Linked DNA regions of Homo sapiens. The protein of the gene in region 3 interacts with the protein of the main gene of each other region in a biochemical or structural test. Each region holds a gene or a part of one and is shown on either strand. Other genes may lie near its edges.

Region 1 (7,736 bases), on a different chromosome or scaffold from region 3:
GCCTGTCCGCTCTGCTAGGGGCAGCTGTCTGGTCACTGCCCTCTCCTGGCATCCCTCCGATCCACCCGGCCCCCTCGAAGCCTTCCCTGCCCCTTTCCTGTCTGTCTCTGTCCCCGTTGAGAGCTTCTCTTCCTCACTCTCTTCACTCCTGGGCCAGATTCCCAAGCTCACCAGTGGCCACGGCCAGTGGAAGGAAAGGGGCCGAGTGACCCCAGCTCGCGTGCAGGGAGAGGGCACAGCCCCCAGCTTTGCTCCCCACAGCAAACCCCTCCAGCACCTGCGTGTGCCCACAGAGTGATTTGCCAGGGAGGGGCGCTGCGGGATGGCCTGTACTGCGGGACGTCCTTTCCAGCCCATGGTGCCAGCACACAGCATCTCCTGCCCAGGCCTCTCCCTGCTCGGCTGGGACTTCTACACGCACCTCCAGCCTGCTACACAGGTCCCAACCCCCGGCTTCTCCCCTCAAATCCAGGTCTGCACCTCTCAGACATCTGCCTTGTGGCCTCTGCACCTGGAGTGTCCCTGTGTCCTGCCCGCCTGGCACAGAGCTCCTCCTGGCTCACCCCTCAAGGCTTCCCTGCTTGGCTCCATCCCCCGGAATCTGATGCCCTCAGCTGGCTCCATCCCAGAATCCAAACTAACTCATCACCTGATGCAGCCGCTTGCTGGTCCCCGTGCTGCTCGCTGGACCCTGCACCAGATTTGGAGACAGGACAACGGAGGGGCCGGGGTCTGCCCTCCACACACCTCCCTTAGAGTTTCAGGCACTGAGGGAAGAAATGATTCTGCATCTGATTCTTGGGTAGACTCTTAGCTCTTCAGAGGAAGGCTCTGTTCCTGTTTAACCTCCCACCCAGCAAGGCCCACACCGTTCTCAAACACGCATGCACTGCCCGGGTGCAGTGGTTCATGCTTGTACTCCCAGCACTATGGGAGGCTGAGACAGGAGGATGGTTTGAGCCCAGGAGTTCAAGACCAGCCTGGGAAACATGGTGAGACCCCATCTGTACACACAAAAAATTTTTTAATTAGCTGGGCGTGGTGGTATGTACCTGTGATCCCAGTTATTTGGGAGGCTGAGGCGGGAGGATCACTTGAGCCGAGGAGGTAGAGGCTGCAGTAAGCCCTGGTTGCACCACTGCACTCCAGCCTGGGTGACAGAGCAAGACCCTGTCACACACGCTCGTGCGCACACACACACACACACACACACACAGAAATGCCCGGACGGCCTGAGGGGTGGCTGGGCCCTCACTGGGGACACCTCCTCCCTTGCCCACGCCTGCCAGTCCAGGCTGAGTGGAGAGAAGGGCTGGAGGCAGGGGCTTGGCCAGGGAGGGAAGGAGTGAGAAGCGGGCGGCCACATGGGCTGGGCAGCCTCCGGGATGCTCTTTGCTTTTGTTTTTTTGTGAAAAGGTTGAGTGATTTGCACATCAACGTGGAGGGTGTAGGGAGGAGAGGCTGGGGGACCGGGAGGAAGGTGGATGGGCCGCAAGATGGCCCTGGCGTCTGCGGAGGAGTAGCTGAGTGAGAGAGCAAGAGTCTGCCTTCTCCACGACGGTGATGTGGGCAGGAGAGAGGGCTGGACGGCCACAGGAGGACACCCTGCACCCTGGCTTCCCTTTCCTCTGCGATTCGGGAGGTGAGGGCGTACATCTGCTGAGAAGGCCTCCCAGAGCCCCGTGAGCATCCTGGAGTGTGCCTATTCCTCGGCCTGGGTTCCTTGAGAACAGGCAGGGCTCCCCCACGCCGTGGCCTGCTTGTGAGACGTGTCGCTGGAGGGGTTGTCCTGCTGCCCTGTGGCTGCCGTGACGTTGAGCTCCCACATTCTGGAAGTCCGAGATCCTGGGGTGGGCAGGACTGGTTCTCCTGAGGCCTCTCCCACTGCTGGGGGTCCCGGTGCCCCTTGGTGCAACTGTCTTGTGGATGCCTCACCCTCATCTCCACTGTCTTCTCATGGGGAGCTCCCCACCGTGGGTGTCTGTGTCCCGTGTCCACATTTCCTCTTTTTTTTTTTTTTTTTTTTTGAGACAGAGTCTCACTCTGTCACCCAGGCTGGAGTGCAGTGGCATGATCTCAGCTCACTGCAATATCCGCCTCCCGGGTTCACGCCATTCTCCTTCCTCAGCCTCCCAAGTAGCTGAGACTATAGGCACATGCCACCATGCCCGGCTAATTTTTTTTTTTTTTGTATTTTTAGTAGAGATGGGGTTCCACCGTGTTAGCCAGGATGGTCTTGATCTCCTGAGCTCGTGATCTGCCCGCCTCGGCCTCCCAAAATGCTGGGATTGCAGGCGTGAGCCACCGTGCCTGGCTCACATTTCCTCTTTTTGTAAGGAAACCAGTCACACTGGCTGAGCGGTCACCCTCCTCCACCGTGACCTCATCCAGCTAATGACACCTGAAGCAACTCCGCTTCCAAACACGGTCACGCTCTGAGGGGTTAGGCTAGGGGTAGGGTTAGAACTTCACCATATGAATGTGGGTGAGGGGCATGATTCAGCTTCAACAGGGTTGGGTAGGCAGAGGGGAGGAGGGCACACTCTCCAAGCCCTTGGGGCAGGCCGATCGTCACCCCAGCCTTCAGCTCCAGGGCCTGTGGGCCTCCCCCTCCGCCCGAGCGGCTTCGTAGACCTGGGGCTGAGTGTGGTTTTGTGCTCTGTGTCTCCCTCTTGAAATTCTTAGGGTTTTTTTGTTTTTGTTTTGTTTTGTTTGAGATGGAGTCTAGCTCTGTCGCCCAGGCTGAAGTGCAGTGGCACGATCTTGGCTCACCGCAAACTCCGCCTCCCAAGTTCAAGCGATTCTCCTACCTCAGCTTCCCGAGTAGCTGGGCTTACAGCCGCCCGCCACCACGCCTGGCTGATTTTTATATTTTTAGTAGAGATGGGGTTTCACCATGTTGGCCAGGCTGGTGTCAAACTCCTGACCTCAAGTGATCCACCTGCCTCGGGCTCCCAAAGTGCTGGGATTACAGGTGTGAGCCACCGCACCCGGCCAAAATTCTCAGTTTTTGAACCACAGGGTTCTGCATTCTCATTTTGCTCTAGCTCCAAAAGTGAGGCAGCCGGTCCAGCCTTCGGGCAGTAGAGGGCAGGAGGGGGTGGACCCCAGCCTCCACCTGCCTGTCCTCTTCCTGGCAAGGTTCCTGAAGCTCCCAGCGACGATGCTGGGGCTGCCCTTCTGCAGGCCAAGGGAAGGACCTCAAGGGCAGGAGGACACAGGCATTGCACCTGCCGATGCAGTGCCTGGACGGGTGGGTGAGCGGAATGGCTGCAACCTGGAGGCGAGACCCTACCACCATGAGGGGAGCCGTTTCAGGATGGCCTCAGGATGGAGGCCGCATGGTGAGAACCGCAGGGCTCTGCCATGTGCCACTCTGCAAGGGGGACTTGGGGGCCCTTAGGGACCCCCAGGGAGGAGGCGTGGGGAAGACACAGGCATGGCCTGTTCATCTCCATGGCGCTGGGCCTGATCTGGTTTTAGCCCTGCCCATCGTCTGGGCCACGGATCCCTCTGGTGCCTCCACTCGTGGGGCTCTGAAAGCCTCTGCTGGTCTTTGTGGTGTGTTTGGTGGGTGGGGGGCTCGCTGAGTCCCAAGGAGGCGGCCTCCGGTTCGGCCCCACCCTGATGGGTCAACACTCTGGGCCCAGGGCCCTCCCAACCCCTGGCCTCTCTCCAGCCCCTCTTTGCCTTGGGACCCCCTGTAAGTCCTTGCTGGTTGGATTTCTCAGGCCCAGCCGCTGGCCAGGGCTCCCTTCTCCCATTCTCCTGCGCTGAGGTTTCCAGCAGGGAAGCCTTCGCCACCTCTGTGGCTGCCCTACTCTGGCCCAGCTTAAGTCCTCCCCTGCCTCAGCTTTTGGGGTCTGGCTCCTGCAGTCATGCATCCCTCCTCCTGACCCTGGAGCCACTGCGTGGTCACTCCCAGAAGCTGGGGACAGTGAGGGCTGGAAACAGCCTCCATCCCTCCCCTCGGGCTGGCCTATGCCTCTTGGGAGGGTCCCTGAGGCACTGCCTTTAGAGCCTGGGGACACGAACCACTCGGTGGTCAACTCCAGCGACCAGAGCACGGAGAGCAAGGGGCAGCGGGGGGACGAGGCGGATGCCCGACAGCTCGGCATCAGCAAGGCAGTCCAAGACAGAACAAGGCACCCGACGGGTAGAACGCAGGGGCATCCCGGGCACAGCCCCCAAAGCCACCTGGGACCCACAGCTGTTTGATGTGCTCAAGGCTATGACCCCAGGCTTCGAGAAAAGACTCCACCAAGTTCCATGAGCACCTGTAGGAGAGCCGGCCTCTGGGTAGATTTCACCCAAAGAAGCTAAAACGCTCACGTGGTGCTTATGGGATCACAGACGTGTTTGTCCCTGATGCTGCAGGAGAACTGGCCACTCACAGGTGGACCTGATGGCCAGAGCTACTAGCGGGGACCAGGGGTAACATGGGTCCCCCTCCCCGAGCCATGAAGAGCTGCCTGCGGCCATCTTGGCCCTCGCACCCCGTCTCTGTCACCCCAGGCCCCTGTAACTTGCTTAACGCTTCCTGAGGGGTGGTTTGGGTTTTTTTTTTTTTCTTCCTCTCCTCTTGTAGCAACAGATTAAAAAACAACACCCTGACCCAAGCCGAGACAGGTTCCAAACCTCAACCTGCAGCCGGAAGGGGGAAGTGAAACTCGGCTGGGGGTGGGGGCTCAGAAGCCGCCCCAGAAAGCACTGAAAGCCACAGCACGTACACCCACTCCAGGGATCTGCCAGCACCCTGTGGGGCCCAGACTACAGGCTGATGGCGGAGGCTTCGAGTGACCCGGGTGCCGAGGAGCGGGAAGAGTTGCTGGGGTAAGGGTCTGCGGCGACGCCCGGCGCCCTGTGCCGTGTCCACGGGTGCATAGTCCTTGAGCTGCATGGAGGGTGGAGAACTGAGGTGCCTGATGGGGAATCTGGGGCCCCCAATGGGAGAACTTGGATGTCCGATGGGGAAACTGGGGACCCACAGACAGGTGGCAGGAAGTCTTGCTGGGACCCCCCTCTCACAACAAGGGTGGAGGTCTCTTCCGCCTGCCTCTGTGCCCTGGACTCACTGGGGGAGGCGCGTGGGATCCTAAGCCCATGGTGGATGCCTGAAGCGAGGAGACCCCAAGACGTGTCCTGGACTGCCAGGGAGGAGCTGGGGACTGTGGGCCCTGTTAGCTTGGGAAGAGGCAAGGTGGGGGCTGGGGAGCAGCTGTTCTGGGATGGGTGGAACTGGCCCGGGCCTGGCCACCTGCCCACAGGACTATCTGAGAGGGGCTATCCTGCCTTGAGGGTCTGGAGGCCGCCAGGCTTGGGGCCCAGCAGGCCTCAGGGCAGGGCACCCAAAGCTGCCCTTGACCTGCGGTAAAGGACAAGGCCAAGGATTCTGGCAGGTGCCTGTGCTGGGTGCCAGGCACCGTGTGTTGGTTGGAGTGGGGACATGAGGGGGCATGGCAGAGGTTGTGTGTAGGACTGCCAGAGCTGGGCAGAAAAACCCCGCTGCCAAAGGCCTCCTAGCGGGCAGCTGTACTCTGTGGTACCAATGGGCATCCAGCCCTGTGCTGGGGTGGGTGGAGAGGGCTAGCGGCTTAGTAACTGGGCTCCCTGGCAGAGGGGAGCTGCCGGCCAGCAGGCATCCAGGCATCACAGCTGAGCCTCGCCAGGGGAACCCGAGTTGCCCCCGGTGCAGGTCCCAGAAGAGATGGGAGGGCTCAGGGCGTGCGGTGCAGGGACAGGTAGGGCTTTGAGGGGCAGAGGGGCGACGTGCTAATGGTCAGGGGATGGGGATCCGGTGCTGGGGATAGAGGCCGGCCTAGGAGCAGGTCAGCGGGGGCTGTGGCCTGGTGTGCGGAAGGGAAGGCGCTGGGGCCCAGGTTGCAGAAAGAGTGTGATGCCCGCAGCCACACAGGACGGACCTGAGAGGAGGCCCAGGGTGACGCTCACATACCCCAAAACTGCAGCCAGGGCTGCTACCAGTCTCTGCCTTGGTGCTGACAGCAGAGGGTCCCGGTCTACCCGACCCGGGGCGGTGCAGGGACCACCTCCCGGCCTTCACACAAAGCTCCTGTGCTGTTGGTGGCTGCAGTCACTGTCCTGTGTCTGTGTCCTTGGTGGCCGTCACATTGCTGTGGGTCTGGTATGTGTGAGGGGTCTGCATCTCTGACTTCTTGCTGCCAAATCCCACTTGGGTACAGGTGCGGGGGGCCACTGAAGGGACCCCGAGTGCCGTGAGTGGAGTGGAGGCTAAGCAGAGGCCGGGGCTGGCTGAGGGCTGGGTCGGGACGTCCGTGCCTGTCCCCAGGGAGAGGTGGGAGGATGCCCTGCCCAGGCCGTGTGCAGGGAGACAGGCTTCTGGGTGCACAACAGCTGTGTCCCAGCTGCAAAACGGGCCCTCCTGTCAGCACCACCCCCAGCCCTGGACTAGGTGCTGCTCCTGGTCACCTCATGCCCATAGAAGGGCAGGACATGAGCCTCTGGGCTGGGGCACCCCCGCCTTCCTCCTTGGCCTCATCCTTGGCCACCCCCTCCCAGCTGTCTCAAATGCCCTGGATCCCCCGGGCCAGGAGCGGGGAGGGGGGGTTGGAGCGGGCATGGCCAAGGCACAGATGATCCTGGGGCATCTTGGTGCAGATCCTGGGAGGCCAGGGCTGCACCTGTGCCGGGGCTGTCAGGCGCTCCAGCTGGAGAGCGGCGGTTCTCCTGGGCTCTGCAAAGCCTGGACCCCCTCCTTGGACATCCCCTGCCCCCGCGAATTGCATGGGGTGCGCAGCCAAGCCTGACCTTTCAGAATGAAACTGAGAGCCCCAGTGGGGTAGGCTTCTCATTTCACAAGGTGACTAAGGGAACCGGGGAGTTTCCTGTCTAGGATGGGACAGAAGTCCCCTGCACCCAGGCAGGGATGTATGGCCTGGGAAGCCCCCACACGGGAGTCCCCAGGAAGGCCCAGGCTGGGCAGGCTCAGCTGGGGCTGGAGCAGTGGACAAGACAGCCCCCCGTGCATGTCACAGAGTGCCAGGTACGCCAGCCTGTGACGGTCTCAGGACATGCCCTCAACACTAGGTCCAGGGCAGGCCAAGCCCCTCCAGCTGGACAAGTGGGTCCAGCCCCTCAGACTGTCGCATGATGTGGCCCCTCCCCTCAGACTGCCCGGGACGGGGCCAGATTCCTCAGAACCACCCCTCCATGATGTGGTCTCTCAGATGCCCCCAGGACAGGACTGTCCTCTCCCACGAGGCCTCAGGCCAAAGAAGGTCCCCTGACCCTGGGCGGGGTCCAGGCTCCGCTTCGGCTACCAGCCAGGCTGGACTGCGGTTCCTCCACTCGGGGGCACTCCTGTCTCGCCCCGCTGTCCAGCAGACAGTCACTAGCTTGTCCTTGTCCCTTGGGGGCAGGGACGAGGATTTCACAGAGCTGCCTTGTGGCTCTGGGGGGACTCTCTGGTGACGCTGGGGGATGCCTGCCCTCTATAGCCCCCAAGAGCAAGGCTCTCCCCACACTGAGGAACTATCTGGCCTTGGAGGCCTTGAGGCGATGAGGACGGGGCGTCCTGGTCCACAGCTGGGGAGGGTCAGGTTGCCCTCTCAGACCTTGGGTTCGACATATCCAGATGTTGGAGCCCAGCTCTGCAGGGGTGTACCCTCCCTGGGGTCACACTGCATTTTTGGCTGCAGTGCCTGTCCTTGGCCCAGCTGCCCGGGGGTGCCCACCCGCCCAGGCGTGCCCACCCCATG
Region 2 (7,021 bases), about 39 Mb from region 3:
TGAGGGATGATTGAGGTGGGAATGCAGGGAGTGTGTCCCCAAAAGAACTGAGAAGAAATAGGGCCAAGAACTGAGTCTGTTGACCTGCCAGTTAACCAGGAGGGAGAAGAAAGAAAGAACAATGTTAACACTACAAAGTTACAAAGGTAGGGGATTCTCAAGAGAAGGATGTATTTCATCAGCTCAGGGAGAAAAGAATTTCAAATCAAATGTTGAGAAACCAAGGGGAATGACTTGGAAAGCAATTGAATCAGGCAATTAGGAAGTCGGCACTTATTGTTAATACAGCAAAGTCTCAGATTTGATATCCAAATATTTCGAATGTCTTTGTTTGGGTAAGTTAGTCTCTGGCATAGCTGAGTGCCCTACACAATACTGGATACATAATGAGTGTTTGAGAAACACTTGATAAATTTTTATTTATGTATTTATGTATTTATGTATTTATTTTATTTATTTTTAGACGGAGTCTCTGTCACCCAGGCCAGAGTGAAGTGGCTCGATCTCAGGTCACTGCAACCTCCACCTCCTGGGTTCAAGCGATTCTCCTGCCTCAGCCTCCTGCATAGCTGGGATTACAGGCACACGCCACCACCCCTGGCTAATTTTTGTATTTTTAGTAGAGACAGGGTTTCACCATGTTGGCCAGGCTGATCTTGAACTCCTGACCTCAAGTGATCTGCCCGCCTCAGCCTCCCAAAGTGCTGTGATTACAGGTGTGAGCCACCACGCCCAGATAACACTTGCTAAATTTATTTTAAGTATTAGAGTTGTATCTGATTCTGTGCCCTCTTTTCAGGGCGACTTTTCCTTATAAACAGAATCCTAAGTGCAGTGACTTGATACGTCCAGCTTGCCTATGATTGAAATCCCCAGGATGACTCCTTCTTTCAGTACGATATGTTAAAACACTTGTGAGGGGCAACCTAACAGTAAGGTGACCCTTTATAGTGCTTTCACACGTCTGATGCCTTTGGCGCACTTATGGAACTTTCCCCTGTTTTCTCTCGAAGAACAAATTGCTCCAGCCTTTGTGCTTCACATAGCACCCTTCTAGGGCAGAATCCCATTTATTCTACTGCCTTGTCGTTATTTGTTTATGCCTCTGTCTTCTTCACTTTTGACTCCCAGTATCTCACATAGTGGTAGGGATAACGGGTGCTTGTTAAATGCTGATTGCATGAATGCAACCATAATTAGTTTGTCTGATCAATCTATTTCTACCGACAGAGGAACAAGATGGGAATTAGGTTAGGGGGTTAGAAAACTGCTTAGAGGTGTGTGCTGCCTCTGGGGGATCCAGGAAAGACCTGGGACAGACATGGGTGCCTGAGGAAGCCCATAACTCAAGGGGTCAACCTTGTAATTGTTCTTACTGATGGTTCCTTTTGCACTAGTGACTCAGGCATTTTGATTCTGACCTTGACCTGGTTTAAGAGGAACAGGGAGGACTGGAGACAGTGCCCTCTTCCAGATTAAACAAATTATGCACACGTGCACAGGTACTTTGTAAGCAGTTTATTCTGATGATTGGGCAGGTGCCTAATATGTCAACATTGACTGAGCTCTGTGACCATGGACAACTCCTGTCCTCTCTTGGAGCCTTGGTTTCTTTCTCTCTCTAAACTAGGCTGGGCATAGTGGCTCCCTCCTGTAATGCCAGCACTTTGGGAGGCTGAGGTGGGCAGATCACTTGAGGTCAGGAGTGTAAGACCAGCCTGGCCAATATGGTGAAACCTTGTCTCTACTAAAAATACAAAAAATAGCCTGGCATGGTGGTGCGGGCTTGTAATCCCAGCTACTTGGGAGGCTGAGGCAGGAGAATTACTTGAACCTGGGAGGCAGAGTTTGCAGTGAGCTGAGATTGTGCCACTGCACTCCAGCCTGGGTGACAGAGCAACACTCCATCTAAAAAAAAGAAAGAAAGAAAGAAAGAAAGAAAGAAAGAAAGAAAGAAAGAAAGAAAGAAAGAAAGAAAGAAACTAGGCAATTGGGTTAAGTGGCGTCAAAGTTTGGCATCTCAGAGATGACCGAGAGGAAAAGCATTCCTCTCATTCCATTCAGAGATGGAAGTGGAGCTACTCTTTCTCCATCTGAGCTGCCTATTTGGGAGGAGAGTGCTCTTGAGGTTGCTGGGCATTCTCTTCCCCTGCCCAAGGCTCTGTTGGGAATACGGAAGTGGCAAGGCTTGAGAGATTACCAGTGAGCCTGCCCCAGAGCTCCTGGAGTTCCCGCAGGAAGACTTCTTCTACCTGAGACCTCCCTGAAGCAGCCCTCTTCCCTACTAGCTTTTCAACCAAAGTGACTTTTCAACCCTTCAGGATTGGAAGATGCTGTCAGTGAGATGGGGAGGTCTCTTGGCAAGGCAGGTGTCTCCTAACCTGAAAATAAGATGTAGCAACCACTGGCAGGTGACTACTTGGACCCAGTGACTTCATCCTCAAAAAGGACTAACAGATTGGGGCATGTATTTGCCTTCTCTAGACCTGGTGGAATCTCTCAGTTCCAGAAAATCCTAAATGTAAAGATTGCTTACTTAGAATGGAAAGTTTTTTTGTTGTTGTTGTGCTTTTTTTTTTTTTTTGAGACGGAATCTTGCTCTGTCACCTAGGCTGGAGTGCAGTGGCGCGATTTCCGCTCACTGCAAGCTCCGCCTCCCAGGTTCACGCCATTCTCCTGCCTCAGCCTCCTAAGTAGCTGGGACCACAGGCGCCCACAACCACGCCTGGCTAATTTTTTTTTGTATTTTTAGTAGAGACGGGGTTTCACTGTGTTAGCCAGGATGGTCTCGATCTCCTGACCTTGTGATCCACCCGCCTCAGCCTCCCAAAGTGCTGGGATTACAGGTGTGAGCCACCACGCCTGGCACTGGAATGGAAGATGTTAAAGAAATCTGGAGCACCTCTGCCTAACAACTTAACCCAGGGGTCTCAGTCATACTTTATGAGTCTTTGGGACTCACACATTTTTCTCCCTGATCTAGCGTGAGTGAGAATAACGTGAGGGCCCCAGGAGATCCCCTAAACACATCAGTTCCTCTTCTACCTGTACTTCTATCATTAGAGATTATTTCTTTTGGGTCAGACAATTTTCTGTCTTCTTTTAAAATCCATTCATTCACTCAACAAAGATTTTTTTAAAGAACCTACTATGTTCCAGGTTCTGTAGCAGGTGCTGGAGATGCAGTGAGGAAAAGGAGTAGAGAAATACAATTAAAAAATACACAGGAGAATTTCAAATAGTGATGTGTTCTATGATAAAAGTAGAATCGTGGGAGAAAATAACTGATGGGATGGAGGGAGGTCCACTTAGACTGAGTGGCACAGACAGGCCTCAGTGAGAAGGGACCATCTGAGCTGAGCTCTGAGCCGTGGGTAAGAAGCGGCCCTGTAAGGATCAGAAGGAATGTCCCACACAGAGGGGACAGCAAGGATAGAGCTCTGAAGTGGGAATGAGCTTGCTGTATTGGAAGAACAAAAAGACCTCAGCATGGCTGGATCACAGTGAGGGGGAGAGTCAGGGAGAGGTGGGTACATCCAATCCAAACCCATAGTACCTGTGAATTTGACCTTATTTGGAAAAAGGTTCTTTGCAGATGTAACTAAGAATCTCAAGACAAGATCATTCTGGATTTAGGGTGGACTCTACATCTAATGACTGACATCTTTATAAGGGGGAGGAGGGGGACTATGAGACACACAGTAACAGTGAAAGGCCGTGTGATGGAGATGGAGGCAGAGACTGGAGTGGTGCATCTAGATGCCAAGAGATGCCATGAATTGCAGCAGCCACCAGGAGCCAGAGGAGGCAAGGGAGAATTCCAAGGGTTGCAGGCAGCTGCCAGAACTTAAGGGAGAGGAACAGATTCTCCCCCAGAACTGCTAGAGGAGACCAACCCAGCCAACAACTTAATTTTGAAGGTCTGAACTGTAGAGCTGTAAGAAAGTATATTTCTATTGTTTTGAGCCACCAAGTTTGTGGTAATTTTTTATGGCGACCCTGATACAAGAGGCGAATAATTTTAGCAAAGAGCAGTTGATCTAAAAAACAAACCAAACCTGCTGGTTGCTGTCCAGAGAATGGATTATATACGCAGGGGGAAAAAAAAGTGGAAGCAGGAAGCCAGAACTACTGTAAGGCCGGGCGCGGTGGCTCACGCCTGTAATCCCAGCACTTTGGGAGGCCGAGGCAGGTGGATCATGAGGTCAGGAGATCGAGATCATCCTGGCTAACACGGTGAAACCCGTCTCCACTAAAAATACAAAAAATTAGCCGGGCGTGGTGGCGGGCGCCTGTGGTCCCAGCTACTCGGGAGGCTGAGGCAGGAGAATGGCGTGAACTCGGGAGGCGGAGCTTGCAGTGAGCCGAGATCCCGCCACTGCACTCCAGCCTGGGCGACACAGCGAGACTCCTTCTCAAAACAAAAACAAAAACAAAAACAAAAAACAAACAAACAAACAAACAAAGAGGCTACTGTAGCAGGAAGCTGATAGTGGTGTGAGTAAATGAACGCATGAATGAATGAATGCACTAACAAAAGCGACGGGTGAAACAATTGTGGGTGACTGACTTGATGAGATTGTTAGGGACTCTGCAGAGCTGGTTCTGCTCTTAAAGCATAGATAGGTGAGCTCAAGATGGGCTTCCTGGGAGCTGGTGGGGAGCAGACAGGTGTAGAGGAAAGGGCCAGTAAATGCAGGCCCAGGCAGGAGGGCAGGGACTGAGTCACCCCGTCCTCCTCATGTGCAGCAGATGCCCAATCCCTGAGAGAGAGTGAACGTCCCAACATCACATGCAGCTTCTTTCTCTGAGGGCCAACTCAAATACTACCTTGGCCCTGAAGCATCCCCAGCTTTTTGTCCCATCCACACACAAATTGTTTCTGCTACACTTGCACTTTGGGCTTCCCTGGGAATGCCCCCTGTCCACTGCCCTATTCCACCTTGTTCATGCACATGAAAGAGTTGCTGGTCTCATGTGCTAAACTGAGATGATTTTTAGAAAGGAGCTCCCCTTTCTTTTTCATCTCTGGATCCCCTGCAGCAGCATGCCCAGGCTCCTGCACTCAGCAGGCTTCCATAGATGCTTGCAGGCCTCAGTTACTGAGCCGTGCCGAGGCTCGGTCACTCACACACACCCAGAAGCTTGCCAGAACTCCAAGTCAGCGAGAAGTTGGCAAGAGCAGAAGACACACTTCCTCTTTGTGTCCTTTTGTCCCCTCAGCCTCAGCGACAGCCTTTCTCCAACAAGTTGGCACGAGGCAGGAGCCTGGCACCTTTGTTTCTGCATGTCGAGCTGATTTATGAAGGGACTGTACGGAACAGGACATGTGACAGAGGCACACACTGGCCCTGGCACTGCCTTCTGCATGTGAACGAGCCAGGCCACCTACCTCCGGCTTGGGGACTGCTGGCTCGCTCTGGACCTCACTGCTGGTCTCCAGCTGGGCAGGGCCGGTCTGGGGGCTGCAGCCTGGCTCGAGCACTGCCCCCTCCTGTTGTTTTTCCTTGCCTTTTTCCTGCTTGGGGACATCTCCGCCCTTCACTCCTCCAGGGGGACTGTGGGGGGTCTCCTTCACTGCAGCTCCCTCCTCCAGCTTCTTTGTTTCTTGGCTGTCATGTTCAGGTCCCACCTCTTCATTTTGCACCCTCTCCCCCTTCACCTCTGTAGCCTTTTCCATCTCTGCTTCCTCTCCAGCTGGCTTTTCCTCCCTGGGGCTCCCACACCTATTTTCTGCCTCTGGGCCAGAGGTCTGGGGCGATTCCGGGACCTCCTCTTGGGCCGGGTGCTGGCCGTCCACCTCCTCTGAACTCCGCCTGGCCTTTTCACCGTTCTTGGCTTCCTCTGTGGCCCTGTCCTCCTCCTGCTTCTCTGTCCTGCTGGGTGACCTCCTCAGAGGAGGCTTTTCAGCAGGTCCCAGGGTTCTCACTCCCTCTCCCGCTGCTCCCTCACTGGACAAAGGGGATCCTGGGGCCTTGCTCTTGGATGGCAACACTTCATCCCCATCCTCTTCCTTAGCACCGTTCTGCTGAGATGACTCCACCGCCCTGAAATCTCCAAGTTCTCCACAGTCTGACTGTGACCTTCGGAATCGCCTGGAGGGAGGGCGCCTTTTTATTGAGCCCCTCGTCCGCACCTAGAAGAAAGTGTTAAGGAAAGTTATCCAAAAACTCATAAAAAAAGGCCAAGAGGAGGACTGTATGCACTTTCAATGTCAGTCTGGTGCACTGCTTCACAAGTCCACGCAAGGACCGTTTAATTTTCCAGGAGAACGAATCATTGTTTGCTATTTATTATAGATTAGAGCCATGTGGGATTGTGAAATCACATGGTGACCTGCAGACTTTTATTTTGTGAAGATGCAAATGCTTTCCATTCAGTAAAAAACAAAAACAAAAACTCATGATTTTATTGCACTGTAAAACATTAATCAGTTCGGTGTCTAATTTAGTAATTTTATTCTGACACTTAAAAAAAAATTCTTGCCGGGCATGGTGGCTCACACATGTAATCCAGCACTTTGGGAGGCTGAGGCAGGAGGATCGCTTGAGCTCAGGAGTTCAAGATCAGCCTGGGCAACGTAGCGAGACTCCATCTCTACTGAAAGTAAGAAAAATTAGCTGGGGGTGCTGGTGCATGCCTGTGGTCCCAGCTACTTGGGAGGCTGAGATGGGAATATAGCTTGAGCCTGGGAGATTGAGGCTGCAGTGAGCTGTCATCACACCATGGCACTTCAGCCTGGGCAGCACAGAAAGACCCTGCATTAAAAAAAAAAAAAAGAAATTGTCTAATTATCTATAAATAACCAGTTCTTCAAATGCTGTTTGACTAAGTTTTACCATCTTACAAGTTTCCTCATAAATTGACATATTGAATAAAATCTCTATTTTGCATAAGAGTCAGACTTTTATCTTGTGAAGATGCAAAATGCTTCCTATCCAGTAAAAAAGATAACTTATGATTTTATTGCACTGTAAAATTTTGAAAAATTTGAAAATTGTACTTTTGAAAATTATACTTT
Region 3 (7,021 bases):
ATCAGAAACGAAAAGGATCCTGGTTCCTCCCTTCCTCTACTCATCCAGCAACCATTTGCCTATCCTGGGCACTGCCCACCACGAGGAGTGGCAGCTCTCTATGGGCAGGTGCCTGCCTCTGCAGGGTTTCCAGAGTGCCTGGAGATAACAGACTGACACACAGAACCCGCAGTAAACACCACAGGAACAGAGAAACCAAGAGTGTGACTGAGGGGTTCTGCCTGAGGAGAACCACAGGGCTGAGTGGGGCCAGAGAATGCTTCACTACTGGGTTTAGGGGTTTGCCCATGGGCAGAGAGGGCAAGGCCCTACAAGGCAGAGAATGGCATGCTCAGGAACCAGGCAGCAAGGACGCAGGGTGGCCTGGCAACCATCTCTGGGGTGGCCACAGCCCCTTTGTTGCCCCCCACAGCACTCGGGCTCAGGGTTATGAACAGCTGGCACCTTGACATCCCGATGGGCAATGTTGATTGAATGCAGATACTGGATGGCCTCACCGATGCTCTTCATGATTTCGGATGCTTCTGTAGAGGGGAGGGAAGAGTGAGTGGGAAAGAAAGTCACAAAGACACATCATTAGGCTTGAAAACCCAGTGCACCGGGTCCCACCTCTGTGCAGCCTGAGGCTCCCCACAGCCACCACCCACCCCAGAAACAAAGCCACCAGGAGCTTCCCTGGTCAGCTGAGGCACCCCTTGCAGCATGCTGGAGGGGGCAGCAGCCTCAGCACCCTTCCCCAAGAGCAGGCACTGCAAAGGCCCCCTTCAGACCCCCACTGCCCTGCCTGCCTGCACGTGCTCCCACAACAGACCCTTTCTACCTCTTTCTGTGAATGCCTGGTCTCCTCGATCCTGGATTCGGCTAAAGAGTTCTCCACCGTCCAAACTGAAATGAAGCCACAGTGAGATCCAGAGAACACAACAGCCCGCCGCCACTCTCCACTGCCCCCCAAAAAATCAAGTGTTTACATTCCAGGCTTCAGGCCCATCCCTGGGCTGTCCTCAGAGGGTAAGGTGCCTGAGTGAGGAGTGGGAACAGGCTGGGCCGGGACTAGAACAGTGGCTGCTTACCATTCCATGACAATCAGCAGGCACTTCCTCCCTGCGTACAGATTCTCGTACACATCCACGATCCGTACGATGTGCGGGCACTGGGAGGCCCGCCAGTGCAGCTCCACCTCCCTGCGGGCCTTGGGGCAGTCCTGAAGCATCTGCAGGCCAAACAGCTTTCTGAGTAACTGCGCTGTCACATGGGCCTGCTCTAAGCCCCTGGCCCACATGCCCTGACATCGCCACCGACATACCACAAACCCCCCACTCCTGCTGGCCCCCCCCACCAGCCCCCTTGGCACATTTCCTGAGGCCTCTGCAGTTCCTTATCTGCTCTATATGAAATCTCATGATGACTCTCTTGGGGCCTTGACAGCTACACTGAGATCAGCCCTCAGGCCATTCGGTCCAGCTTAGACCTGTCTCCAGCTTAGGCCATAAAGTCTACTGTGGAAGGCAGGCAGCACTCAGGTACTGGGAAGCAGGGGGTGAAGGGGCTTCGGGGAGAAAGGCAGACTGAGAAAAACCAATACAGTATTGGAAAGGGGGCTAGAGAGAAGAGAGACTCCAGAGTCCATAGGAAAAGGCCCCTCAGCAATTACTCAGACCCAGCACAACAAATCCAGAGCAATATTCTCTCTACCTCTGTAGTTGACTTCAACCTGGCAACAGATGGCCTTGGAAGTCAGCCGGATGCCAGTATGAATCCAGTTATTACTAGATTTCCAAGCTTGAGCAAGTTACTTAACTCGTCGAACCTCACTGATGCCCCTTCTTCTCCCTGGACCAATTGGCTAGGGGTATTAAAGGAGGCTGGCTTCTCACCAGCCTCAGGGGTTCAATCTTGACCTGTCTAAGCCAGTCTCATTAATTCCAGTCCCTTTGCTAGTGACTGGCTTGGGAACAAGCCTACAACTCAACTGGCCAAGAGCCTTGTAAGAAATCTGCTGCCGGGCACGGTGGCTCGTGCCTGTAATCCCAGCACTTTGGGAGGCCGAGGCAGGCAGATCACGAGGTCAGGAGATCAAGACCATCCTGGCTAACACGGTGAAACCCCGTCCCTACTAACAATACAAAAAAAATTAGCCAGGCATGGTGGCAGGCGACTGTAGCCCCAGCTACTCAGGAGGCTGAGGCAGGAGAATGGCGTGAACCCTGAGAGGTGGAGCTTGCAGCGAGCCGAGATCACGCCACTGCACTCCAGCCTGGGCAACAGAGCGAGACTCCATCTCAAAAAAAAAAGAAATCTGCTAAGAGGCTTCTTAAAGGGAGCACAAGAAATGTACATCATCTCTCCTGCATATGGCACCTGGGACCATGACAGTCACATTATTACCAGTAAGGGGGGCCTAAGAGGATAAACCAATGCACTGAGGAAGGCAACCAGGAGAAATGGCAATCACCTGGATCCTCGCTGCCATCACCAGGGATCCCTCAGTACTTCTTTTTGACAAGATAATAAACTCTTCTTACTGTTTAAGCTGCTTTTCATGAAATTGTCTATTGCTTGGAGCCAAAAGCATCCTGATCTACCCTTCCTTTGTAAAGTGGGGATGGATAATGGCTTCTGTTTCACAGATTTGTTGTGAGGATTAAATGAAATATTTCCACAAAGCACCTCACAGAGTATCTGACATGCACTCACTAATAGCTGTCATTTTTATCACCAATTGTCTAAGTGCAAGCGCAGGTGCCAAAATAATTAAGACAAGGACACTCACAGATTTAGCATCTTCATGGGAAGTCAAGATGAGCCCTACACAGTCCACACTCCAACTGCTTTGGACATTCAGAGGGCTGGGGTGTCCAAGAGACATGCTGGGAAGGAAATGGACAGGCAGAGGGAAGGCATGAAGGCAGAGGGAAACGTGGGAAGCAGGTGCTGACTGACCGAGATGGAGTGGAGCTGGGGTGATACAGCAGGGAGGCCTAAGAACCTGCTGGAAAGTGTCTGAAGCTTGCAAATAAGATCAGATGGCCATGATGGAGCCAGCTTGCAGAGGGAAGGGAAGGACAAATGAGCATTTCCAACAAGAATGCTGGCATACATTTATGCTATGGCCCATGATATGTTGGGTTTTTCCTAACTGTACATTTGCCATTTTACAGGATGGGGAAGCTGAGGCTCAGAGAAGTAGCATGCCCAAGGCTAAGTTTCTGAGAAAAGGCAGAGCCAAGGTTGGAATCCAGGCCTGGTAGACTCCAAAGACCAAGTCTTTCCACCACACCACCCAGCTTTTAGAGGAGGCTGGAAGCCAAGATTTCTCAGACTGACTTTGCAGAGGCAATTCCCCAAACAGGTGACTAGAAGGAATCAATGACTAGATAACTCGGTCTCTCCCATGGAGTAACAGGTGGCCGGAGCCAATAGTTGCAGGAGGCAAGGTTCCCAGGAGGTCACACTGCCACCTTGTGGCCATATGAGGACACCTCATGGGTCTTGAGTTCTGCCACTTTCAACTTCATTAGGGTTTGTTTGTTTCTGAGACAGGGTCTCGCTCTGTTGCCCAGGCTGGAGTGCAGTGGCACAATCTTGGCTCACTGTAACCTCCGCCTCCCGGGTTCAAACAATTCTCCCACTTCAGCCTCCTGAGTAGCTGGGATTACAGGTGTGAGCCACCACGTCTGGCTAATTTTTTGGTATTTTTAGTAGAGACCGGGTTTCGCCATGTTGGCCAGGCTGGTCTCGAACTCCTGGTCTCAAGTGATACCCCACCTTGGCCTCCCAATGTGCTGGGATTACAGGTGTGAGCCACCATGCCCAGCCTTCAACTTCATTCATTTGGATGTACCAGGAAAAAAGTTTACTTTCCCATGCTCTAAGGGGAGCAAGAGAAGGCACTGGCCAATTTCCTTTGTATATAATTCAATCCAGCAAGCATTTACTGAGCTCCTACTATGGGCCATGCATTGCACTGAATGTCAAAACCAAATAGAGCAGTCCTGATCTGGAAAAGCCTAGGCTAGTGGGGGGCAGAAGAAGATATGAGGGGAGACACAGAAAATCCTTAAAATCCAGTGAGATTACATGCTGTAAGAGTGCTAAATTCAAAGGGTTCAGGAGGAACAAGGTTTCCAGAGCAGCCAAGCAGAAAGAACCTCGATCGCCCCCTACAGGCACACAGGAACTGGAGCCCAGAGGAGAAGAATCAAAGTTGTCAGATTTACTCAGAAGCAATGCCTGGTTGTAGAGTTACAATCAGGGAAGACTTGGCCCAGTCTGAAATTTGTCAATTTCTTCTTGCACAGCCTCACAGAGAGGTCTACCTTTCAGAGCCTGTGCCACATGCATTTAGGAGCGATGATACCTGCCTAGCCTCCCCCTCATAGAAACATTATGAGCATCTAATGAAATAATACCTCTAAAAGTGCTTTATTATCAGAAAGGCATTCATCACTGTCAACCAGTACCATTAATGCCACAGTACAGGGGGGTTCCTCCGTCACCACTGAGTTGAGCTTGGAGCATGTGGATGTAACCAGCACAAGTTATCACCAAGATTGTAGGCTGGGTTTCTGTCTTCAGCCCAGTGACGACCACCAGGACATCTGCCAACCAGAGCTGTGCTAAGTGAGGATGCACCAAGATCCAAATCTAAATGCATGCTCCTTAGCACCCCCTGAATTCCAAGCGCTCACTGCAACTTCCGCACTTTCTGCCCTGAACACGTTAGGAGTGCGTGGCACAAGGCAAAGGAGAGTTTGTGCAAGAAGGGCTAGGTTCACATCACACTTCCAGACTTGCACAAACTCTCTACCCATTAGAGGAGACGGATGTAGCACAGTGAACCTAGGCTTTGCAATCGCATGCATTTTGAATCCCAGTTCTGCACTTCCTAGCTTGTGTCATGCAAGCCCACCTATCTTTCTGGAAAGGGTTTCCTCATCTGTAAAATTAGATTCAACTTCGTGAAATAATATCCTTGAAGGTGCTTCAGAAACTCTATATAGGGTAGTTTCCACTTTGAAAAAATTTACCATTTTGCATATTTATGCCTTATCTGCCCAACCTAACTGAGTTTCTAATGGGCAAGATCTAATTTGATTTCTGTTTACTCCCTCCCCTCTTCCTTCCCTCACCTAGTGGTTAGGAACTTCTGAGCTAACACCCCCTCATTCTGTTGCTTCTTCTCCCTACTAAACTCTCTCCCCCAGTGACTGAGGGTGAGCTGTCCTTTCCATCCTGAAATAAATTGGAAAAGGTAGTATTTTAAATTTCTTAGAGAAACTTAGCAAGAATTTCCCATGAAGACTGGTCATTGCACATCCTGCATTTGTATTCCAGAACTTAAATTAAATTTAACAAAAAAAAAAAAAAAAAGGACTGGTCATTGACATCCATCCAGGCACATGTTTATCAGAAATCCCTGACTGGATAAGAAAATCAACCCAAGCAATGAAAGCCCTTCAGATGGGCGAGGCAGGCTGGCTGACGTCCTGGGGGCACAGCCCTGAAGTGCCAAAGTGGCTCTGTGGACAAGTGTGGAGCGCAGAAGGCCTGGAGAGAGGAAACCAAGAATGTGCTAATCTGGAGTACAGGGCTAAGTAAAGAACAGCAGGGGAGGTGGCCTGCACTCCAAGCCAAAGAAGAGACAGGGAAGGAAAGCAGGACTCCTAGGGCACTGCCAGAGGCCACCAGCAGAGCGAGGCGGCAGGTCCACCCAGAAGCCAAGGCCCCTGCTCCTTGGGCATGGGCATGGCCATGGGCAGTGAAGGCCAACAGGCCCTGAACCATGCTCTGAGGACTGGAGACTAGAAGAAGGAAGGGTCTTCCCACTAAAAAGCCATAGATCATTAGTCAAAGAATGCCTGGAGGAATTGTGAAATATTTTAAGCCCAAACTAAGCCCCGGTCCAACATTGTGACTCACCTCAGCCCCACAGTTTGTGCCTGAAATTCTCTTACACGTAGAAAAGGTTAATGATTGCGTGTGCTCAGCTGCAACGCCACAGGCAAGGCCCCCTGCCAACTGTGGCAGGGGCAGGGGCCCAAGCCACAGAGCGCATTGCCTGGGAAGGAAGCTCTAGGACAGCGGCAGTGAGGGAGCTGCGGGAGCTGCCTAAATACAGTCCCATGCCTCTCTGTCTCTTCCAGCACCTGAGGGGAAGAAGGACAGGACCCCTCCCCCTATTCAAGGTATGCATGGTTCCCCTCATCTCCTCCTGCAAGTCTGCCATTGTGGAGCCACGTGGAAAGACTCAGGAGTGGTCAGCATTAGAAGCCTGGCTGAGCCAGAGGACAGGAAAGCAGCCGGCACCCAGGGCCTGATGTGCCACTCGTCAGCAAGGTGGACATGAAGACAAGACTGGGAAGGAGCAGGCCCCAGGCCCTCAGGAGGACCCCCTTCACAAGCGCCACTGCTCACTAGCTATGTGAACTGGGAAAAGTTTCCAACCCCTTTGTGCCTTGGTTCCCTTACCCATTAATAGGACAGTAATAGTCCCCACCTCATGGGCTTGCTATACAAGATGAGTTAATAGATGTGCATGATGTAAATAACTAAGAATAACGCTTGGCACGTAATAAGTACTGCATCCGTGTTTGCTATTATTATTCTGCTCCCCACTCCCCATGTGTTGGAGTCCCACTGGGGGGGGCAACTGGGATTCCATTACACCCATTTCAATGAAGGTGTTATTAATAGCTCTGGGCACTGGACAGACGGGGGACCCCAGGACACGGGGAGGAAAGCAGGCTGTGGCATCCCAGCCCTGTACACTCCCTCACTACACCACCTAAGCTGGGCGCATGTAATGAGAGAAGGAAGACATCCCTCCCCAAGACAGACTCTGATTCAGCGCCAAGAGCGATGCAAAAGGCTGATTCTGGCACCAAGTGTGTTGTGGGTGTGTGGTGCGGTATGTGTTGGCAAATAAGACCTCCTCTTCACTCCCAGGAGGCAGCTGGGGGTCGGGGGAAAGCCACGTGTGTCACACACTAACCCACCGTGCCTCCAGGCCAGGGCCACCCAC
Region 4 (7,200 bases), on a different chromosome or scaffold from region 3:
ACCCTGTCTCAAAAAAAAAAAAAAAAAAAGGCCAGGTGCAGTAGCTCACCCCTGTAATCTCAGCACTTTGGGAGGTCGAAGTGGGTGGATCACCTGAGATCAGAAGTTTGAGACCCACACCTGTAATTCCAGCTACTAGGGAAGCTGAGGCAGAAGAATTCTCTAAATCTGGGAGGCAGAGTTGCCTGGGTGACAGAGTTGAGACCTTGTCTCAAAATGAAAAAGAAAAATACAACTACTGGTCATGACATGCAAGGCAAGCACTTGCTGCCTTTAACAAAATGACACCAAGGTGTCCATCTCACAAAAGGCAGCAGGGTGAAGGAGACACTGTTCAGCATTACTAATATGCCAGCTCAGATGACGCAGACCCACCCACCCATAGCTCATGTGTCTATACAGCCTTATGGAAAGTGAGGTGTTACAGCCCTTGCTCACCACACTGCTACAAGTGATAATCCTATCCCCAGTTCTATATTAAATTACATTCTACATACAGAAGCCTACATTACATTTTAAGACTTGCTCTTGCAGTTCCTTTAACCTAAAGGATCTTTGCACCAATGGTCTTATCTGTACAAATACAGATAAACTCTGCAGTAATATGAATTCATGAAGAATGAAATGCACTGGCAATTTCCTCCATAGCAGCATCACTGAAATGATTTCATGACACTGTACTTCCAATCATTTGATCCTGTATTTTAACCAGTAAGATTGCCTGAATGCCACTTACAGTGGTATGGTGAATTATACTTTACTACCCATCCTTCAAGGGCAAGCACACACCACCTCCTTATAGACATTTGAAACCTATTTCCTTTCTTCATAAACAGCCACAAGGGCTCCTTTGTATTGTTCTCAATAATGTTTATCACCGGGCGCGGTGGCTCACGCTGTAATCCCAGCACTTTGGGAGGCCGAGGAAGGCGGATCACCTGAGGTTGTGAATTCGAGACCAGGCTGACCAACATGAAGAAACCCTGTCTCTACTAAAAAATACAAAATTAGCCGGGTGTGGTGGTGCATGCCTGTAATCCCAGCTACTCGGGAGGCTGAGGCAGGAGAATCACTTGAACCCGGGAGGTGGAGGTTACAGTGAGCTGAGATCATGCCATTGCACTCCAGCCTGGGCGACAAGAGCGAAACTCTGTCTCAAAAAAAAAAAAAAAAAAGTTTATCACCCAATGCCATGACTTCCTCAAGTTCTCACCAAAACTAACCTCCTGGGTGAAAAGGCATGTTTCAGGAAATTCAGAGTATTGCTCCCCACACAGCAGACTTAAATACCTGAATCTGTTGACTCGGAGGAGCCCATTCTCTGCAGATTACTGTTGTTCTTCACCTCCAGTGGTTGCTCATAATCACTGAAACCAACAGAAATAAACCATGAATGATTTATAGGATATAATTAAAAGGTCACATGCAGGAGATAGGCCATGAGATTAAGAAGCAGCCAGGCTGCCAGAAACCATTTCTAGGCCACACCACAAGTGGCAAAGATCCCACTTTGCCACTCTGAACACCCAATTAGCACTTGGGCAAAGGAGAAAAAAGGAGTGGGTGGGCATGGCCTTGGACCACATTGCAGGTTATGATGGCTATGGCAAATGTTGGGGTATTTCCTAAAATAAAAGCATGTGTTCTAAGTACTGAGACAGAGTCGGGATGAAAGTTGAACAGGACACTTTCTGCTTTTCAGAAGTTGGGAAACGCACAAGACATGTGCTTAGCAAACGGGATGCCAGAGATTGAAGGGAAAGTAGCTCTTCCGCGGGAAACACCGTGGGATGCATTTTTTGCTATCAGGAAAAGCCCAGGAAGCTTTCTGAAAGTTGGGTAAAAAGACCTGGCCTTAGGAAAGCAGCAGAGTGGACATCAGGAATGTGCACAGGGCGAGGGACTGAGATGATTTTACATAAACGCCAGGAAAGAAAATGCCATGGTCCTTTGTTGAGAAGGAACAAAGATCACAGCAAACGAAGATCCTGAGGATGGTTTAGCAAAGGGTGAAAGTGAGTGCCTAGAAGAGCCTGATTTTCCCCGCGGGGGTAGATTCCAAAGAGCTTCCAGGGATAGAGATAGAAGGAGAGTACGGAGCAATCCGAAAGGGGTGAAGGTGGGCCTGGCTCGGGCTTAGGCCCAAGGATCTCCACCTCTTCCCCTGGAAGGTCCCGACGGCCTCTCCCGCCCAACATTCCGCCCGGGCGGGGGTGCACATGGCAGGCCCTAGCCCGGCTGTCCCCGAGCGGCGAACCCGGACGGACGGGTCTCGCCCTTCTCCCGGTCCGTTTCCTGGCCTGATCTCTCCGAGGCCGACACCGAGGCCAGGGGCCCGGAGCACCGCCCGCCGGTCTCTCCTTACCTGCCCAGACCCTGCAGCTGGTCCATAGTGACGGTCAGGTTGGTGACAGGCGACAGTCCCCCGGCGGCTGAAGCGCCAAATAGCGCCTTCACGACGGGCTGCGACGCGGGAGGGGGGCTGCAGGCGAAGAGCAGGCGGCGGCGGTGCGGGGGCTCCGGGCCCAGTTCCATGGCGGCGCCCGGCCTCGCAGAGCTCCCGCTCCCTCTTCCTCTGCCTCCGCCGCGACCGCCCCGCCCCGCCGACACCGGCCTCGGCCGCGCGCCACCGGCGCCCGCGGGTCAAACACAAACACGACTCCGCGGTTCAGGGACGCGGCTGCCGCGGGCAAGCGGCGCGGCCGGGCGGGTGTGCGGACCCTCCAGGCGCCAGCCACCAGCCACAGGCACGGGTGCTTCCCTCTCACACCGCGAGGCCAGCGGGCGGGCGGGCGCCGGCAACCTGAAGATTAAATCCAAACAAACGTGGCGGGTCGGCAAGAGAAGCCGGGCGAGAGCCTCGAGGCAACGGCCCAGGCTCACGCTGTCTTCGCTGTTCTCCCACCCGCTTGCCCAGCTCCGGGTAGCAGAAAACCAAGCCGACCTACACCTCTTACCCAGGCTGTCGCAGCCAGGCCGGCCTTTCGCGGTAATAGCGGCTCAGTGGGGCCAGCTGCTGCCCCGCCCCCCTTTCCTAGTTGGCGCCAAACGGAATCCACCAATCAGTAAGCAACTTCTCCTCCTCTCAACCGAATGGCAGCTAGGCTGGGCCAATGAGAGGGGAAGAAGAAAGCGGCTCGCGGGACTCTGCCAGGTCATCGGCTCTCAGAAGGGGGCGGAGCCCAGAGCAGAAGAGCGGGGATCAAAATGAGAGGGGGAGCAGAGGTCAATGAAAACTCCCAGCAGAACCTGCGAGGCGCTGCTCGCGGCTGAAAGGCCCCTTTGCCCCGTCGCATGCTGGGAAGCGTAGTTCCCATCGCGAGCTGCCGTCCAGTTAGCTTCGGCCCCCTTTGGGCCTCCGCTACCTCGCCCCCAGCCGGGCGCCCCACACTCTGAGGCAATGTGGAGGCTAAGGAAGACCTGTGGAGGTCTGGCCGGATCCAGCCTTGGCTCGGCCTCTAACCGTGCAGTATTGTGGACCCCTTTCTTCCGCCCCGGGCCTCCAGGCCCCATTTTATAATGAGGGAGGGAATGCAATGACCCCCAGGACTGGACTCGACCACCAGGGCCCAACTCTGGAGGGCTCACAGACCCTGGGTGCTGCTGGCCTCATGGGATTTGAACCCCGCAGTACAACCTGTGCTGTGGGCCTCAGCATTTTTTGCTCACTTCCATTCTAGCCCTTATTGGATGCTCTTAGAATCATTTCTTTCTTTCCCACCACTTCTTAGCCCCCTGGGAGCTCCTAGAGAGAAATAACAGCAAACACAATAATAGCAAATAATAGCTAAAGTTTACATAATGCTTATGCACTTGACACTGTTCCCAGTGTGTTAATCTGTATTAATTCATTTAATCTTTACAACTCTGTGACATAGGAATTATCCCCATTTTCTAAGTGGGCATATTTACTTTTACAGCGCCGAACCTGTGGCAGCTCCTAGACGGATTTTGAGGGCCATAAGTGCATGATTTAATTGCAACCTACTGCTGGGCTTAGTGGCTCACGCCTATCATCCCAGCACTTTGGGAGGGCGAGGTGGGAGGATTGCCTGAGCCCACGAATTTGAGACCAGCCTGGGCAACAAAGTGAGACACCCCCTGCCCCCCACTCAAAAAAAAAAAACCCTACAGTTTGAAAAGCCATGCTGGACAGGTGGAAACCCCAAACCTTTGGCCCCAACACCAGACCCTTCACAGTGAGGAACCTCTCTCTCAGGATTCATCTCCTTTTCTGTGCACCAGTGCTCCACCACCCAGGAACCTCCCTTCCCTCCAGAAACCCCAGGCTATTTAGGCCTCTCTGCACAGTTCACATGGTCTGTGGTCCCACTGTTTCAAATAGTTCTCCCTGTCGTATCTCTGAATACTTTCCTCTCCTCCTGTGTTTTATGTGGTTTAATACTTGGCTCAACAGGCCGGGAGCGGTGGCTCACGCCTGTAATCCCAGCACTTTGGGAGACCGAGGCGGGCGGATCACGGGGTCAGGAGATCGAGACCATCCTGGCTAACATGGTGAAACCCCGGCTCTACTAAAAATACAAAAAATTACCGGGCGTGGTGGCGGGCGCCTGTAGTCCCAGCTACTCGGGAGGCTGAGGCAGAAGAATGGCTGAACTCGGGAGGCGGAGCTTGCAGTGAGCCAAGACCGAGCCACTGCACTCCAGCCTGGGCAACAGAGCGAGACTCCGTCTCAAAAAACAAAAACAAAACTTGGCTCAACATTCCTGTTACTGCATTCATTCATTCAACATATGTTTATTTAAGGATTACTAGAACAAATTCAGTGCTTGAAATAATACCACAATCCCTGCTCTCAGGGAGCTCTGGTCCGCTGAGCATAAAGCTCCTTCTAATAATGGAATTATTACCATGACAATAGCTGTGGTTTGTGGAGGGATGGTGGGCACCTAGAGGAGGGGCGGGGACTGGGGAAGGCAGTACGGTGGGGGGCACGTCCTAAAGGAGATTAAAACTAAAGGTCAAGGTTGCTGGAGAAGGGGAGCTTGGGGCTGGTGGGAAGTGCTTTCTAAGGAAACGGCCCTCGGCAGCCAGGAGGTGAGGAGGAACGCCGTACTTGCCGGGAGCTACTCCTGAGTTGATCCAGTCGGTTCTAGAATGGGCACATGGGACTGGCTGTGAGGGACAGTTCTTGAAAGGATTGGAGTTTGCTGAAGAGTTTGGCCTTATCCTGTGGACAGTGGAGGGTGTGTGATAACCGGATCAGATTTGCTTTAGGGTGGATCAGTGGAGGAGAGTGGGGAGGCCTGAGGAAAAAGGAGGTGGCTGTCTCAAAAGTCTGGGAGATTCTGAAGCAAGGTGGGGGCCTTGGAGACAAAGGAAGGGAATGATTCTGTGAGCCCTGAAGGAGGTAGATCTCATCAGATTTTGATAATTGAGAGTTAAGATTGTAGGGGGCTAGAGGGAAGGGAGGAGGCTAGAATGATTCTTAGGTAATGATTCAAGTACCTGGGTGGATGTAACATTTCAACAATTGGAGGCATACTTCTTGGAGGAATTTGATGAGCTCAGTTTTGTGCTGGTGGACTGGCTGGGGGGTGTAGTCAGGAGGCAGATTTGGTGTTGATTAGCATGAAGATGGTAATGCCCATTGAGGATGTACAAAGGGTTTTTAGGACCCTGGATCTGGGGAGCACCAGCATTGAGGACTTGATGTAGTGAGACAGGACCGCAAAGCTGGGGCTGAGATAGAAACCACAAGGGAGTAGCCGAGTCCATAGTTCAGAGGTGCACCCAGGAGAGTCACTGAAGGTGGCCAGAATGAGGTCACAGGCAACTATGGAAATCATGTAGGAAGGCGAGGAGGTGGCCACAGAAGGCCATGGGAAGGGAAAAGTTGGCACAGAAGCTACAATACAGTTCAAGTGTGCCAAAATGCATGTACACAAATATTCATGGCCATGTTAATCATTTTAGCTCCAAACAGAAAGCAACCCTAATGCCCATCAACAATAAAATGGGTAAATAGAACAAAGTTATTTTATACAGTGATGAAAAGGACAGAAGCGCTACCCACAGTAGGAGTGAATCTCACATCAATGTCAAACATAAGAAGGAAGACACAAAAGAGAACATGCTGTTTAGGTCTGGCTCACACCTGTAATCCCAGCACTTTGGGAGGCTGAGGCAGGCGAATCACTTGAGGCCAGGAGTTCGAGACCAGCCTGGCCAACATAGTGAAACCTCATCTCTACTAAAAAAAAATATATATATATATACACACACACACATATATGTGTGTATATATACATAATATACATACATGTGTATATATACATAATATACATATATATGTGTACATACATATACATATATATGTATATATACATATACATATATATGTATATATACATATACATATATATGTATATATACATATATACACACATATGTAATATACATATATACACACATGTAATATACACAAACATATATATACACACATATATACATACACAAAAATTAGCCATGTATGGTGGTGCACAACTGTAATCCCAGCTACTATGGAGGCTGAGGCATGAGAATTGCTTGAACCCAGGAGGTGGAGGTTGCAGTGAACCGAGATTGAGCCACTGCACTCCAGCCTGGGTGACAGGGCGAGACTCCGTCTCAAAAAAAAAAAAAGTTAGTTATGGTACTAGTTACCTTTCAGAAAGATGGTGGTGACTGCAAGGGGCCATGAAGGGGATATTGGCAACTGGTCATATTCTGTTTCTTATTTATTTTTCACTTTTTGAGACAGAGTCTTGCTCTGTGGCCCAGGTTGGAGTGCAGTGACATGATCATGGCTCACTATAGCCTCGAACTTCTGGGTTCAAGTGATCCTCCCACCTCAGCTTCCTGAGTAGCCTGAACTACAGGCATGCACCCATAAACCTAGCTAATTAAAAATTTTATTTTTTATTTTGGCTGGGCATGGTGGCTCACGCCTGTAATCCCAGCACCTTGGGAAACCGAGGTGGGTGGATCATGAGGTCAGGAGTTCGAGACCAGTGTGGCCAACATGGCAAAACTCCGTCTCTACTAAAAATACAAAAAATTAGCCGGGTGTGGTGGCACACGCCTGTAATCCCAGCTACTTGGGAGACTGAGGCAGTAGAATCACTTGAACCCAGGAGGCGGAGGTTACAGTGAACTGAGATCATGCCATTGCACTCCAGCCTGGGCAACAGAGCAAGA

The links.
Region 1: of the proteins of MAPKAPK2 (region 3) and LSP1, one has a biochemical effect on the other in vitro, tested with the Homo sapiens proteins (one study listed by BioGRID).
Region 2: of the proteins of MAPKAPK2 (region 3) and RCSD1, one has a biochemical effect on the other in vitro, tested with the Homo sapiens proteins (one study listed by BioGRID).
Region 4: of the proteins of MAPKAPK2 (region 3) and CDC25A, one has a biochemical effect on the other in vitro, tested with the Homo sapiens proteins (one study listed by IntAct).

What each region holds. Positions count from the first base shown.
Region 1 is NC_000011.10:1,848,365-1,856,100, forward strand, and holds the start of LSP1 (lymphocyte-specific protein 1), read left to right. Parts: upstream 1-4,719; 5' UTR 4,720-4,780; coding exon 4,781-4,833; intron 4,834-7,736. UniProt on the Homo sapiens protein: May play a role in mediating neutrophil activation and chemotaxis.
Region 2 is NC_000001.11:167,696,214-167,703,234, reverse strand, and holds part of RCSD1 (capZ-interacting protein), read right to left. Parts: intron 6,137-7,021; coding exon 5,393-6,136; intron 1-5,392. UniProt on the Homo sapiens protein: Stress-induced phosphorylation of CAPZIP may regulate the ability of F-actin-capping protein to remodel actin filament assembly.
Region 3 is NC_000001.11:206,722,899-206,729,919, reverse strand, and holds part of MAPKAPK2 (MAP kinase-activated protein kinase 2), read right to left. Parts: intron 1,211-7,021; coding exon 1,071-1,210; intron 886-1,070; coding exon 821-885; intron 525-820; coding exon 445-524; intron 1-444. UniProt on the Homo sapiens protein: Stress-activated serine/threonine-protein kinase involved in cytokine production, endocytosis, reorganization of the cytoskeleton, cell migration, cell cycle control, chromatin remodeling, DNA damage response and transcriptional regulation.
Region 4 is NC_000003.12:48,185,413-48,192,612, forward strand, and holds the start of CDC25A (M-phase inducer phosphatase 1), read right to left. Parts: upstream 3,006-7,200; 5' UTR 2,536-3,005; coding exon 2,366-2,535; intron 1,368-2,365; coding exon 1,291-1,367; intron 1-1,290. UniProt on the Homo sapiens protein: Tyrosine protein phosphatase which functions as a dosage-dependent inducer of mitotic progression. Directly dephosphorylates CDK1 and stimulates its kinase activity. Also dephosphorylates CDK2 in complex with cyclin-E, in vitro.